Regions from separate parts of the Homo sapiens genome. Here region 2 is linked to region 1. Evidence: fine-mapped expression QTL. Tissue or cell type: putamen. Region 1 holds a variant in brackets; the other region holds the start of a gene. All regions are shown on one strand. Distances are from middle to middle.

Region 1 (8,106 bases):
TACATTTAAAATATAAATTAGCATATGATAATATTCTTTTTTTTTTTTTTTTTTTTGAGACGGAGTCTCGCTCTGTCACCAGGCTGGAGTGCAGTGACACAATCTCGGCTCACTGCAACCTCTGCCTCCTGGGTTCAAGTCAACTGCAACCTCTGCCTCCTGGGTTCAAGTGATTCTCCTGCCTCAGCCTCCTGAGGGACTAAAGGCATGCACCACCATGCCCAGCAATTTTTTGTATTTTTAGTAGACACAGAATTTCACCATATTGGCCAGGATGGTCTCGATCTCTTGGCCTCATCATCTGCCCGGCTCGGCCTCCCAAAGTGCTGGGATTACAGGTGTGAGCCACCATGCCCGGCCGATAATATTCTTAAAAGATCACTCTGACTATTGGGGTGGGGGGGAGTGGCTTGGAAATAGGGAATTAGATAGATGTTGAAGTAGTACTGTTGAGAGATAATAGTGACTTGGATAGGGTGGTAGCAATAGCGATGAAGAGAAAAACCTGAGATATATTTTAGAGGTATAATTGATAGGAGTTGATGACGGATTCGATGAAGAATGAGGCTAAGAGAGGAAATAAGGGTGACATCTAGATTTTATTCTAACAACTGGTTGGATGTTGGTGCCATTTACTGAGATATGGAAGACTGTAGGAGAAATAGATTTATTTCTGGGACACGGATGGTGAATCAAAGGTTCTATATTAGATAGGATCAGTTTGCAATGCTTATGTGGCATCCAAGTGGTGATATCAAACAGATAATTGAATATATGAGTTTGAAACTGGAAAGATTTAAGATGAAGATATAAATTTGAGAATCATGAGTATACAAACACCACTTAAAGCCACTGGGCTGAAAAGATAAATAAGGAAGAAAATACAGATAGAGAGAAGAGGTCCCAGCAACATGTCTTTAGGCACTAAAACATTAAGAACCTCAGATAAATTTAGATACATAAATATATAGTGATATCACTCTCCTTTTAAATTATCTAATTTTCCTTTGGCAATTTCTAATCATTTCTTTGAATAACTTTTTTTTTCTTTAAGGGCTAAAAATAGTCTTCACCCAAGAATGAATTATGTTTGCCCTCTTCCATGAATGTGTTGCTCTCTCAAAGGATTCTGTGCAACAGTTATTTCTGGCCTAAAGTAATTGTGCAAATGAGTTAGCAGCTAGATCACTGCAGAACTATATTGAGTAGGTTTGTAGTACAGCAAAATAAACTGTAAAACAGATGGTGTGCCTTAGAAATTTATCTCTTTTCAGCATCACACAACATTCGGGTTGGGCCATTTAATTATTTGTTTTCTAATTAGCACATACTTTATTTCTGGCTTTGGTCATTTTTCTAGTAGTCTCCATTTTTGAGCCTCTGTAACATTTGTCTCTATGAAGTCTTTGCCAAATGGATAGAGAAGTGACAGATATTGTATACTATATTGGATTGTCCTAAGGAATTCAGTGGATGAAATTTAGAATACTGGCATTTTACAAACTTCTGAAAGGCAAAACTCTTCTTAACCACTTGAAGTCTTACTTTCTATGATTCATATCCCCTGTTTGAAGTAATCTAAAGAAAATATGTAGTTCTCTCAGCGCCCTGCTGCTTTACAACCAGAGCTTACCTTTTGTAATACCTAACACATAGTAACATTTTTCTATAAAGTTTCTATGGTTTAGCCTATGTACTGTGCATTTTGAAATGTGGTAAATATCTGAAAAGTATTCTAAGAAAAATAACTATTTCTCTTGTACATTTAAGGGAATGGAATTTCAAATAAACACATACATATTGTCATCCTGATTTAAAAAGTCAGTGGTTAGATGGAAGGAAAAATACCCAATAAATGACTTTCTTGCAAAGGAAGAGTTTGACTCTAATGGCCGGAGTATGCCGGTTCTTTTCTTTCATTCATTTCTTCCTTGTTTCCTTTTACTGTCAACTGTGGTTCAGGAGTTAATTGCTTCTTATTAGATAATTGCCTTGGTATTCCTTCAAGTCTCCTGGTGACAAATAACACCAAGAATTTACATTTTTAACAAGTTCCCCAGGTATTTCTTCTGCCCACTTATATTTAAAAGCCACTGCTATAAATTAAGGAAGTCAGTTTTTCTTTTATGTCTTGCCATAATGTAGTTTGAGCTTTAATGATATTCAAACATTAATTCCTTCAACACATTGTGTGTACACGCACGTGTGCCCCTACCAGGTACTAGGTGCTAGGTATAAAATATAGTTAAAGCCACGTAAGACGTGGTCTCTGACATAAGGAACTTACAATTTAGTAAGGAAAACAACCTATGTATAAGATTTAACGCAAGGAAGAAAATGATAAATGACTTAAGAAATTACAAAATGACCAGAGGTATGGAGGCAAGCAAGTATGAAGTCAGAAAGTTTAATTTGACTGGCAGATAAGAAGCTTGAAGGAAAGAAGTGAGAAATGAGACCAGAAAAGGAAAGAAAATTGTGAGACTAAGAAAAAAAAGAAAATCGTGAGTGGACTTGAACCAGGGTTACAATTTTAACTTCATTCCATAGGTAGTAAAGAAGAGTTGTATGCTCTTAAAGAAATTATTAATATTGTTAAAGTGCATCAGTCTTGCCAGGTGGCTTATTTTAAATAGGACATCAATCACTCAAATGTCTATATTGATTGTTGCAAGTATCATTTTATTTAATCCATCAGGTACTAGAGGGGTACAAAGATGAATAAAACGGTTCCTCTCCTTGAGTAATTAATTTACCACAAGTAAGTCTGTACTTTGCTTTATAGTCACAACCTTGCAAAAGCACTTTGTAATCAAGGTGTAGGGACTAATTTCAGAACGGTCTTTCCTAATGTATGAACAGGGCCTTTGTTCATTAATTTATGTATTGTTATTCGGGTTTTGATCATTGGCTTTTGACCTTTAGCTTTAACATATATACTCTATATAAGAGGATGGAAATTTTCTGATACCTAACTGTTGGCTGTTATTTTCTCCTTCTGTATATTTTCATCCTAAATATGTTAACTCTTACCTTTATTTTACTATATGTAGTTATTCATACATTCTGAATTATCTTATGTATATGAATATATTTTTGAGTCTCTAATGAAGCCTTCTATAAAAATTATGTTAAGGAGGCCGGGTGCGGTGGGTCACGCTTGTAATCCCAGCACTTTGGGAGGCCGAGGCAGGCGGATCACAAGGTCAGGAGTTTGCGATCAGCCTGGCCAATATGGTGAAACCCCATCTCTACTAAAAATACAAAAATTAGCCAGGCGTGGTGGCGGGTGCTGGTAGTCCCAGCTACTTGGGAGGCTGAGGCAGGAGAATTGCTTGAACCCAGGAGGTGGAGGTTGCAGTGAGCCAAGATCGCACCACTGCACTCCAACCTGGGTGACAGAGCAAGACTCCATCTCAAAAAAAAAAAAAAAAAATTATGTTAAGGAAAAGCTCATGAGCCAGGACACTTGGGGATTTACTCAGTATTCAATTATTGGTATATACTCAATAATTCAACAAATATTTATTGGATAGCTACTATGTGCTTTGGAGGACACAAGGATCAGTCTGGCATGGTCCCTGCCCACAGGTTGCCCACAGCCTAGTAGAGGGTTTAAAACAAAAACACGGGTAGAGAATGATAGATCAACAAGGATGTAAATGTACTACAACAACTACTACTAAATTTCCAAGAAGAGAGCTATTATTCTTTTAAGCAAGCTTATCCAACCCACAGCCCAGCACAAACTTGTAAACTTTCTTAAAACTTTATGAGATTTATTATTATTATTTTTCTTTTTTTTTGCTCTTCAGCTGTCATTAGTGTTAGTGTATTTTATGTGTGGCCTAAGACAATTCTTCTTCCAGTGTGGCCCAGGGAAGCGAAAAGATTGGAAACCCCTGCTTTAGGGGATTATAAAAATTACTTAAGGGTGGAGGTAATATGTGATCTGGCTTTTTAAAAAGTGGGTAAAAATAGAAATTCATGTAGGAGTCGGGGTAAGGAAGGTAAGAGAATTCTAGATAGAAATAACTTTTCAAAGGCATAAAGATAGAAAAAATATGAAGTATATTCAGAGAATAATTTGTAGTTCCTTTTTTTCTATAACCATAGAAGGCATACAGGAGAGTAGTGGGAAATTATGTTGAAAAGGAAGGTTAGAGCTATTTTGTTCTAGACCCTAAGAGTTTACATTTGATTCATTTGGCAATGACTTACTACTGAAAGGCACTCAAGTGCCATGATTGCTGCTGTGCTTGTGTGAGTTTTCTCTTTTGTCCCTCTCACCCTTGGAGCGTTATGTGAGTGGACTTGGATGAGGTCTGTGGGCTAGAGATAGTGACTAGATTCTGAGGGAAGAACTCGAATGTAGTATCTTGCCTGAGATAGTCTGAATCTCAGTTGAATCTAGGAAGAGCCCTAGGAATAAATTGGAGTTGAAGGTCTTGAGGGAGCAGGTGGTGGCTAAAGGGTGGAAGCAGGGTCTTAACGAGGAGGTGAACCAAGAGTCAGGAGTTAAATAGAAACAAGATGAGTATTGGAACAGGCTGGGAACAAGTAGCCAAGTGTTTGAGACTCTATCAGTTAGTGAGTTGGTGGATGCATTGTTTGCCAGGACAGACGGAACTTCAGTAAGAGTTATCTGGCAACAGTGTGTGATATGGTTGTCGTGGTGGCAAGCAGAAACCGGAGAACTGAAGTAGGACTGGGGTAAGATAACGAAGACTGAAACTAGGGCAGTGAGTGGGAACAGAGAAGAGGGGAGAAAGAAGACCTGAGAAAGAAAACATAATTTTGTAACTAAGTAGAAGTGTGAGGTAAGAGAGTA[A/G]GAGCAATCAAAACTGCTTCTTAGGTGACTAGGAAAATGGTGTGAGACAAAATTAAAGTCTAGAAGTGCTGGTTTTGTAGATTGGAACAAGAATGAAGTGTTTTTGGAACAATCTGTTCAAACTTTTATGCTTGAATGATAACAAAAAAGAATTTTGAAAAATGACGAGTCTTCTCAGATATTTTTAGGTTGAACTTTAAAAATTTTCACCATAAATGTAATTAATTGCAAGGGGTATAATTTATCATATAAACATTTGTAATTAAAAATAAAGCTAATATCAGTTTTTTACCCATATGGGACATCCATCTCATTCACTTTTAGATATTTATGAACAAGTTCTTCTTTAACAGAAACTAGGTTATTCATTCTTCTCTTTGAATTTGTGTCTCTATTTTTCTATTCTACTTCTTCCACAGAATTTTATCCTAATGTAATATTTTTGCTTGAATGGATTTTATTAATCACCTATAATTTGTCTCATTTTACAAAAAAAGTTCAAATTTATATTTAAATTTTTTTTTATTTCCTGGGACTCTAAGGCTCTATAATTTCTAAAAATTATTTAAGAATGACTTTTCATTATGATTATTATCAGTAGTATATAATTGATCAAGAGAACATGATTATAATTTTTTAGAATTACTAAACATAACAGTATCATATTGGAAATGCTTTAGTGGATGGATAGGGCTGCTTTCCCTCCCAATTAATTCATTCATACACGATTGAATATTTCTATTGTTAGAATGAGACAATATTCAGCAATGTTGTATTGTTTTTAGTTTTAATAGACACTGAGAACCTTATATAAATAAGTGGATAGGAACGGAAGGAGTTTTGACATAGTAGTGTCATGCAGTTCATCACAGCTGTTTGAGTTACGTTTCAAGACCACTCAGTGAAGGGCCTGCTGGAGGAGACTCTGGTTCCTGCCAAGATACTGTGTCTTCTCTGAAGATTAAACCTAAAGTAACTTTAGAGAGAAACCTCATGATACCAGGATTCAGAGAAGAGTGAGAAATCCCTGGGAAAATAAAGGGATAGCTTGAGCTGGTATGGATAGTGGGTGAGGCTGCAGCCAAGGCAGGGAATTAAAATAGAAACACAAAACAACCCGGTTTTTCCTTTTTCCTCTTGTCATTTGCTTTGGGACACCAGTGCTTACATATCCCTTCACAAGGGTCTGAAGTAATAAAGTCGGAGCAGCACTGAAGCCGTGCCTGAATGAGAAGCCAAGGAAAATGTGTGGGAATTAACTCGTTGTAGGCATTGACTTCTTACCTCTTGGCCTCCAAACTCTAGGACTCCTGGCTGATACTTTTGGTGTACTTTAGGAGTACCTCCTCCTCAGATTATTTCTCCTGGCGGGAGGAGGTGGGTAAGTGTGAAACCCTGAACTGAGGAGTTGCTTAGTGGGGCAGGTTTTTGGTGTCTAAGGTTCTTCCCCATACTCTTCCTTGATCTCCCAAGGCCAAGGGCCAGGACTGGCTCTAGATCCATGCCTTGTCTTCTGGGGTGCCAATGCTTCCTGGGAAACAGGAGCTTAGGGGCCAAGTTTCAAACACCATTAGAAGAGAGTTTAGAATACACAGTCCTAGAATTTAAAAATTAACAAAGTGAACATACTAAGAGAGATAAGGGAAGATGTTGATAATATGAAGCAAGAATAAGAAATAAAAACAGAACCAAGTAGGTATGAAAAATATAATAGTTGAAATATAGAATGCAGTGATATAGGATACATAGTAGATACAACTAAAGAATGAATTTTAAAACTAGATGATCAGATTGTAGAACTTTATACAGAAGGGAGCAGGAGAGGATAAATAAGTTGAAAATATAAAAGAAAAGATATATGGGGTTAAAAGTAAAAGTGCCAAAATCCATCTAATAGGAGTCTCAGATTACAAAAATAAAAAGGGGGAGGAGGAAATCGTTTAAGAAATAATGGGGATAAATTCATCAGAATTAAAGAAAGACCTTAGCTTTAAAGAGATGATAGACTACCCAATAAGAGAGAAGAAAAAAACTGACAAATAGACGTAATGAAATTTTAAAACATCAATAAGAAAAATTCTAAAAGCTCCCAGAGAGAATGAGCAGATCATATAAAAAAGAACAAGAATCACATTGACATCCTACTTTTCAGCAGCAACATTGGATGCAAGAATAACTGGAGTAATATGTTAACTGTATTAAGGGAAAAAGAACTTTAAAGTTAAAATGTTATATCTATTCAAATTGTTATTCATATTAAAGGGAATGATTAAGATATTTTCAAATATACAAGAGCTCAGAGGGTTTGCCACAGGAGTTAAAACACATGGTAGAAGTACTTACAGAGGAGGAAAAACAAATCCAGGAGATGCCACAAGAGCCATGTGCAGCAAGAGTCTTTAAATGTCTTGGTAGAGTTCGCTGATATCAAAAAATACAAAAACAAAACACAAAACCAAAGAAGAGAAAACATAATCATGATAACCCAGAATTAAAATTCATGATAATATCCACATGAGGAGCACTGGGAAGGGGGCAAGGGCATGGGAGCAGCACATGAAAGTGTGCTAAAGGAGAATATGGAGGCATCAGATTTTTAAAGTAGGAAGGAATGAAAAACATATAAAGAGTGGGAGAAACTGAAATAACAATGATATGGAAGGGGGCAGAGACTGAAAATTAATGATATCTAACTTAACATTCCAGAATTTTAACAGAGTAAACCCAAATAAAGTAGTAGGAAAGATAAAACTAAGAGTGAAAATCAACTAAATAGAACTCAAAGGTAAAATAGAAAAGATCGACAAGGTCAGTATTTGGTTCTTTGAAAAAAACACAAAATAAATACATCTTTGGAAAAATTAAGACAGAAATAGAGAAAACAGGCTGGGCATGGTGGCTCACGCCTATAATCCCAGCACTTTGGGAGGCCAAGGTAGGTAGAGGAGGGCATAGTCCCTGGCTAGGGCTCCACCCCCAGGCATGTGCCCACAGACCTAGGTGAGGACAGGCATTTCTGTTTTCCTGCCTAAATGTTGCATTTTCCAAGACCACCCCTGCCTGACATGCCCCCATCCTGGGCCTGTAAAAAACCCGAGACCCTAGCAGGCAGACGCACAAGCAGCTGGACATTGAGAGTCACTCCGCGGCATAGGGCCAGCAGGCCTGCAAGCCATCCACCGGCAGAACAATACGGAGTTTGGCTGGGGCAGTTGGAGGAGAGCCCAGGCTGCTGAGCTGCCTGACTCCAGGGGAAAACCACCTTCCCACTCCAT
Region 2 (8,106 bases), 170 kb after region 1:
TCTGAGCATAATGAATTGATTTAATTAACAGGGGAATCTGAGGGGCCCTGGGAAATGCAGCCTTCACTCTGCTGAGGCGAGTACGGCCGGCGCGGAGGAAGGACGCGCGCGCGGCTCAGGCTCCGGCTGCGGCCCGGCCCGGGCAGCTGCTGCTCGCGAGGCTCCCGCGATCCCGGCCTGGCCGTCTCGCCCCCGCGCCTTCCCCCCAGTCCCTCCTCCTGCGCTCCCTGCCCGCGGGGCTGCGCTCCGGACTCCGGTCCGTCTGCCCCCGTCGGCGGTCGCGGCTCTCCGGACTCGGCGCCCGCGCGGGGCCGGCGGGAGCAGCGCAGGCGGCCGGCGGCGGGAGTCGGAGCCACGCGCCCCTCCGTATCCTCGGCGCTAGTCCGGCTGGAGCCGTCGGGACCATGGTGTTGGACCAGGAGGACGGTAGGTGCCCGGCGCCCGGTGCCGGTGCCCGGGGGCACGCGGGACGTGGGGCGGAGACTGCGGCGCTGGCCCTGCGGAGTCCACCCCGCTAGCGGCGGCAGAGCCCTCAGCACCCGCGGGCCTCCTCCGGCTGATGGGTGGCTTCCCGGAAGCGCGGCGGCTGATGTGTGCGCCGGTGCCGGGGTCGGCGGTGCCAGGCTCAGCGCCCGGGCTTCGGCGGCGGCGGGATTAGGAAGTCTCCCGGTCCCAACGAGGCCGCCAGCCCTGCGCGCTCCGGCTGGGAACTTTCTCACGGACTCTTGCCGCCTTGCGGGCATCCGGAGCGCCTCTGCGACCCGCACCGCGGGCTTCCCGGCAGTGCCCACTGCCAGCCAGTCTCCCAGCCTCTCTGGGTGTCTGCACGTTCCCCTTCCGCACCCTACTGCGGAACGGATCCCAGCGGGGTGGTGGGGGTGCCCACAGATCCTGCAGGTGCAGGGGTGAGGGTGCCGTCAAACCAGCACTGTCTCTGCGGTCTGGCACTCCGTAGCTGCGGGATGGCTGACAATTGTCTCCGCCCCTGGCAGGGCTAGGGAGGGAACTGCCATCAGTTCACCCAGCCTGGCATGTTGGGAGGTGCCACGCTGGCTGGGGTAGGTGGGTGGGCCATCTAGTCCAAAATATCAGGTTCAACTAGAGGCGGTTTTACCTTGAAGCTAATGAAGTTTAGGGTCCTTCAGGTTCCTTCAGCTGCCAGGTCCTTGGTGGTAATTTGGTATTAGTAGTCTTGTAGTCCTTTTCTTAAAGAGCCCCACGCCCAAACTACAGTAAGCTTTGGACCTCACAAAATTTCCATCCATCCCTGGGTCCAACTCCTACCCTTTCCACTGCCAGTCTCTTGGAAGAACTCACAGCTCTGGCTGACCCAGAGACCATCCGCCGAGGCTGGGACAATCCCTTAGTGCCTGAAGGACGAAGTGCTGGGGCAGGAGGCTGGAAGGTTTGGGGTTGAGAGGCAACTTCTGGGCTGCAGGGAAAGGGTCTGGCTGCCTGGCCTTCCTCTCTGGCCCAGCTAGTCCCTTGACCCATCCTACCACCACTCACTATAGTGATCAATTGTCCTTGTTTGCTCAGGACGATCTCAATTTTAGTACTGAACATCCTGTATCCTAGGAAACCCTTGAGTCACAAGGCAAACTTGGACAGTTGGTCAGTGCACACCCAAAACCTTCTCAGGGCTGTGGTGCAGGGGTAGGGGAGATTTCTTTGCTATGGTGCAGATTTGGCTTAGGCCTCCACAAGGCCTAACAATCTATAACTGCTGCTTGCAAGAAGGCCTGTCCAGGCTCTCCAGAAACCAAAAGAGGAAAAGTTTGCCGACTGTGCACTTCTTCACTCCAGCGGGTTGCAAATTCCTGTGCATTGGCTGCTTTTGTGTAAGCAGGGGGAAGGGAAGGGCATCTGAACATGGCCAGCAGGCATCCTGATTGCACTGCGAAGTCTGTAGGTTTACTCTGTCCTGTCAACTGTGGTGGCCACAGAGAAGGGGTCCTCGTCACCCCAATACCTCTCTGAGCATCACCTGTGTGGCTAGCTTGTAACTCCGTCTTGGAGGCAGCTGCATTGTGTTGGGAGCAGGCCCTCTGGCTGAGGCACATCTGACAGTCTCCACCAAAGACTTCTGTAATATCTAGTCGGCCTGGGCCCTCAGGCCCTGGGTCCCACTATCTCCCACCCCCACTCCTAATGCAGGAACTCTTCCTCGGGACTTTCCTGCCAGGTGGAGGGGCAAATTGCTGGGACCTGCCCAGATATTTGTAAGACAGCCAGTAGCACCCACTTTCTCCTTAAACTAACCTTGGGGATTGATAGTTGTCCTCTCCCTGCCATTCCCAGAGGCATTTCGAGGGCATTTTGGAGCACTCTTGGCTTGTCGAAGTGAGAGTACATGCTCATCACCTGTGGAATGTGTTGGGGGAAAACTACCTCCCCCAGCCCCAGGGGATCTGAGGATTCCACTCTGGTGCTGTGGGCGTGTCCCTGGACCTAGAAGCAGCTTGGGTGGGGTGAGCATGGGGGTGGGGCGAGTATGGGGGTGGGAGTTACTTGCTTGCCCAGTGAGTGGAGAGAGGCCATCAGATGGGGTGAGTGATGTTTCTATCTGCCTCTGTCAACCCAGCAAGCCCCTTCCTGGCTGGAAGCTCAAGCCACCCAAACCCTCCAAGACTTGCTGTGAAGGTTCCTCTCCAGATCAGTTTGGGAGCACCATGCTCACAGCTGGGGGTGCAGAAAGAGCCACCTGTGGGCACACACAGCACCAGTCCCCTGCTGGCATGCCCTACCTGCTTCTGCAGCCCATTGCTCAGCACCCCAGGCCTGCTCCAGTCCCTGGGTTTGGGGCACAGGGCCCTGACTCCCCAAAGGGATGCCAGTCATGTGGCTGCCAATTAGGTACCTTGGAGGCTGAGGTGAGCTGGTATTCAGACAAACTCGTGGACAAGAGAGTGGAAGAGTGGCCACAGCTAGCCCAGTCCTGGTTTGTGGGTCAGGGCCAGCCCCTGAAAGTGAGGAGAATCTGCCCCTGGAGGTCAGTAGTAAGGCTGCATGCAGCCCCGATGGAGTGAACGCCTCCAGTAGCACAGAGGTTTCTACGGCAAGAAGTTGCCCCTTGCCAGCCTGTCAGGCCCTGTGCTTGCTACACTGTCTAGCCCCCAGCTCTGGTGGGTGTGAGGGGCTGGCACCAAATATGCCGGTGGCAGCGGTGCCAAAGCCTCCCTCAGACCCTGAGGGCATGGGTCTGGCGGCAGTGGCAGGGGAGAGATCAAGCTCGCAGTCCTGAGGCTGGTGAGTCTGAGCAAAATGATATATTTAACATCAAATATACTCAAGGACTATTAGGATTAAGTATTCAAGATGAAGGGGAAAGTGAAACCCTCTGAGCTGCAGATGAGGCATCTCATTAGAAGCAGCGCTTTTCTGTTTTCTCAAAGCCTGACTTCCCTGCCTAGCAGAGAGGAATATGGCTGCAGCCCGCTGCTCCCCATCCCTGTCAAGCACTGGGGCCTCCCAGGGCTTAAAGGGTAAGACCTAGCCTCCAGGTCTCCTTCAAACCAGATAATCTCCCCCCATCCCCCTGCATTGTCTGGAGTGCCACAGTTTACAAAGCACATTAACATGCATTAGCTCATCTGACCCCCACAGCAACCATAGATACAGGAAGAGTAGGTCTCCCACCTCACAGCCAAGGAAACTGAGGCCCAGATAGAGAAAGAGACTTGCTAAGGTCCACTGTTGGTAATTGGCAGAGATGAGATAGAATCCCAACTGGTGGCCCTTCAGCCCGTTTCTCTTTCCCTGGGTCTAGTCCTCAGAAGTGATTGCCAGGACCAAGCCTCCAACACATCTGTCTGGAGCCCTCCTTGGGCTGAAGAAAAATCATTATTTCTATCCCACCTTGGAACTCTGTACTGTCTAGGCAAAGAAAAAAGACTTGGGATTTAAAAGTAGGTGGCCTTCCGGCCAGGCGCAGCAGCTCACGCCTGTAATCCCATCACTGTGGGAGGCTGAGGTGGGTGGATCACGAGGTCAGGAGTTCGAGACCAGCCTGGCCAATATGGTAAAACCCCGTCTCTACTAAAAAATACAAAAATTAGCTGGGCGTGGTGGTGTGTGCCTGTAATCCCAGCTACTCGGAAGGCTGAGGCAGAAGATTCGCTGGAACCTGGGAGCCGGAGCTTGCAGTGAGCCGAGATCACACCACTGCACTCCAGCCTGGGCAACAGAGCAAGACTCCATCTTAAAAAAGAAAAAACAGAAAGAAAGAAAAAGGAATGAAAAGAAAAAAAGTAGGTGGGTAGGTGGCCTTCCTAGGGTAGGCAGCCAGAACATCAGCCCCAGGATTCTGGGGAGAAGCAGGGTCCAGGAGAAGAGATGGGCACTGTCTCTTTTCCTGCCTTATGAGTTACAGAGCAAGAATCGTCAACTCCATAATAGCAGCAGGAATCTTTGTTTTGTTCAGTGCTGTATCCCTAGTGCCTTAGAACTGTGCTTGGCACATAATACATGCTCAGTAAATATTTGTAGAATGAGAAAAGCTTTCAAGGCCATGCCTGTGCTTGCTTCGAGAGAAGTTGAGATAAGCTCTCCCGCTCCATGGAGTCAGGATGCTTTTGGGGGTGCTGCTGGGGTCAGGAGTAGTGCTGTAAGACTCGGTAGGATCGTTTGTGCCCTGAAGAGGGTTAACTTTGCCAAACAATCCGGGAAGCAACACGAAACCCCGGGCAGAACTGGTAGGAAGGAAAAGGATGTGATCAGAGAAATATTGCTCTGAAGAAGAGACAAAAATCAAGGCTGAGGGTCTGGGAGTGACAGATGGGATGCGTCCTCCAGACAATCATTGAAGACCACGACCCTGGGATCGGAGCAAAGACGCTCACCGAGCTAGGACCTAGAAGCCTCCAGGTGGCGCTGCGGAGCCGGACAGCCGTGCGTCTCCACTCCCCATTAACCCGGGAGGGTGGAGGCCTCAGGAAATGTGTGCATTTATGCAGTAGCAGGAGTGCAAACCTCATACATTGAGGGAGAAAGGCAGCGGGAGACGGCCACGAGATTCCCCCATCTCTTTGAATATAATTTTAGATTGAGATTCAGATTAAATCCGAGGGGAAAACACTTTATGAGGCTGAAAGCTGTGTCGTTGCCAGAGACAGGGTTATGAGCTATCAAATGCAATTACATTAAGACAGATTATACTGGGCAAATTGAGCCATTTAGAAGGTGAGAATCAAAGAAACGGCTCTGATCCTCTTTTCCCCCTTCTCTCTCCCTCTCCCTCTCTCTCTAAATTGCAGTTCGTAGTTCCTTCCAATTCTGAGGCACAAAAGTAGGTGAGACTGCTTTTGTATCTGCGAAGTGCTTCACTCCTGAATGTAATTCTAGCTGAGTGCAATCTAGGTTAAGAGCCGGACAAGCGGGTAATTAGAGCCCGCTAGCTGCCCGAAGACCGGCCGCCCCTCCAAAGCGCGCCCCGAGTCGGCGCCCTTCTCCCGGCCGAGCCTAGCTGCGGCTGGACACGGAGCGCCCGAGATGATGGTGCTGGACAAGGAGGACGGTAGGTGGCGGGCCGGGGTCTCGACGCCCCTCACCCCCTCGCCCCCTGCCGCGGCGCGCAGGCACACACACGCGGGGACACGGGCGCACACCTGCTGGGCTGTGCGGGGATTGCGGGGCGGGCGGCGCGCTGGGGGCCGGGGCTGGGGCGGGGGGAAGTACCGGGGGACAGCCGGGCGGAACTTGCGGGGGGAGGAGGTCGAGCCCCGGGCTGCACGCGCCCGGGGCCGCACGCCCCCCGGGTCCCGGCCGCGAGCCGAGGAGCTGTGCACTGGCCGTGTGCTGCGCCGCGGGGCCGCGCGGAGGCTGGGGCTCCCTTGCGATCTCCGCGCCGCGGAGGTTCGCTCTGAGCATTTCGTGTCTGAGGCTGCTGCTCTCACCGCAGCCATCACCCTCGCGCCAGCCGCCGCGTAACCCGAGAGGCGCTGAGCGCCGAGCAAATCAGCGGCTTCGGGGAGAATCGGGCTCCAGAGCTCGGGGCAAGCGGGAGCGCGGGAGGACGGCGCGAGCGCCAGGGTGCCCGGCAGGCGAGGGGAAGGCGGGTTGGACCCTCCGGGGGACATCTGCATGAGCGTGACTCGGTGAGAAAGAGAGCCGCCTCTTGTGCCGGCCCGCTAGCTCCCTGTCTCTCTGAGCGCGGAGGCGGGAGTTTGGCCCAGAGGAAGAAAGTGTCCCGCCGCCGGCCGGTAGCACTTGTGCGGGAGCGGCCTGCGAGAGTGGCACGGACCTTCCGTGGTCGAGCCTCAGTGCGCCCTAGAAAACTGCAGGGCACGGGAAAGGTCGGAACAGAGGAGCCCATGGCTGCTGGAAGCCACTAGCAGGTGGTCCCATAGACCCCAAAGCCTTACTGGCAGGGAGTGCCCTGCAGTTAAGTGTCCTAGAAGGCTGGGGATCCCAGCCCCCTTGGGGGGAAAGCCAAGTGGGTGCCCTAAGATGAGTCCCCAGGGTAAGGAGAGAGGCAGTACCTTGGCTGTCCCAGGACCTCCTGCCCTGTAGGTGAGGCCTGTGTGTTGGTGTTGCAGGGGCATTTGTATGTGACTGTTGGTGCCCACGCTGCCGCCGGCGTTCTGCCATTGGTGAGGTACCGAAAGGGTAGGTTTGCTTTGAGTCAGCGGGAATCCTCTTAAAGTGACTGTAGTGGCCATCCTCTGCCCTTCCGTTCAGGAGTCTCTGCTGGGCCTGAGCCCTCTGTCCCTGGGGCAGCGTTGTTATTGATGTGGCCAGTTGGTGAAAATGCAAAGCTAAGTGACTTGCTCAGGGTCACACAGGATGTTCGCATTGCCGCTGCCAGGTGCCGATGCCCCCAGGCTGCTACCGCCTTCTGAGACATCCAGCAGGGAGGGGGAATTTGAAGTATCTGGCCTGGGGGTGGCATCTAGGAGGACCTGTGGCTCTCAGTATGTGTGTAGGAAGAGAGAGGATGGGGGGAACCTCAGTGCTTCTGGGCTAGCTGGGGTGGGACATCATCTTCAATATGTCTTCTCTATTCACGGACCCCTTCCCTGGAGCCCCATGTAGGCCATCGGAGAACTTCATATAGAATGAAAAGGAGAAGAAGGGGTCTGGGGTTGGGCCAGACAGGGAGGGAAGAGACCTTGATTTGGTGCCTTTCATCACGAACTCCCCATGTTCACCTTCCCTCTTGGTAAAAATGAAGGGCTTGGAGAAGCCAGGGGAGAGGGTACTTCCTTGGTACCTGGAGATACTGTCACTATGGGGAGCATGCAAGGTTCATCTTTAGCAGAGGTTATTTGGCATACTTGGCTCCCCAGGCCCAAGCCAGGAATCCAGAAGACTCGGGCTCTGTACGTGAGAGGCCTCAGGCCAGGGAGATTGGTCTCATGCCAACAAGATGACACCCCCTACCTGCACCCAGGATCTTGCTCTGCCCAGGCACCACATGATGCCTCTGGCTCTGAGATAATACAAAGGGTTTCAGATGAGCCTTGAGTGAGAATGGATTTCTGGAGGTCATTTTAGCCAGCTCCCTGCCTCCAAATTGCAGTGTACCTCAAGCACCCTGGGCAGATGTTTCTTCTGGTTTCTGCTAGATCTGTGGAAGAGAGCTCCAGATGCCCCTCCATCCCCAGCCTGTCCAGCCTAAACAATATGGTGCCCACTACCATGGAGCTGCTGGGCTCTGGGGTCCATTACAGCACAAGCACATCCACTGGTGTCCTAAGCAGCCACCTATTCTTGTCCTACCCAGCCCATAGCTGTCTTTCAAAAGCGACGTTTCTGCTCATGCATCTGCACTCCACTCCCTATTAAGAGGAGTCTGGCCTCCCATAGTTCCAGGAAACCTTGAAGATGGCATCTTCAATTGGGGGAGGGAGAAAGGTTCTGGATGCACTCATCTGCTCCTCCAAACCAACCACCTATCTTCTTCTTGAACGCTTCTGCCCTCTCAGCAGGTGGCTATCTGAACTGGGTGGCAGCATTCCCCCACCCCCCGGCTCCCCCAAAGGGTGCGTTCCCTGCATACGGCACCTTTTGTCTGGCTGCAGCAGGGACTCAGGGCTGCTATTAACCACCCCCAACGCCTTTTCTCCACCTGACAGCATCTTGTCTGGAGAGGCTGGGGCTCCTCTG

Which allele goes with the higher level. Positions count from the first base shown, and alleles are read on the strand shown. Sizes are in standard deviations (SD) of each study's normalised expression.
For the expression in putamen of the gene that starts at base 4,975 in region 2, A is the low allele of the variant in region 1 and G is the other (large effect, 1.0 SD a copy in GTEx).

Evidence for each region. PIP is the estimated chance that this variant, and not a neighbour inherited with it, causes the effect.
Region 2: LMO1 starts here. The variant in region 1 is fine-mapped to the expression of LMO1 in putamen (GTEx, PIP 0.92).

What each region holds. Positions count from the first base shown.
Region 1 is chr11:8,426,197-8,434,302 of GRCh38, reverse strand. The region is part of intron 14 of STK33 (serine/threonine kinase 33); the gene reads left to right. Among named protein-coding and RNA genes, the nearest start is that of STK33, 160 kb to the left of the region's middle. The variant A/G (reference allele first, on the strand shown) is at 4,832.
Region 2 is chr11:8,260,747-8,268,852 of GRCh38, reverse strand. LMO1 (LIM domain only 1) reads left to right here and starts at 4,975. Exons shown (of 4, transcript NM_002315.3): 1 at 4,975-5,515. The coding sequence starts at 5,491. RefSeq lists enhancers at 242-825, 826-1,410, 6,550-7,089, 8,020-8,106 and a silencer at 5,764-5,853.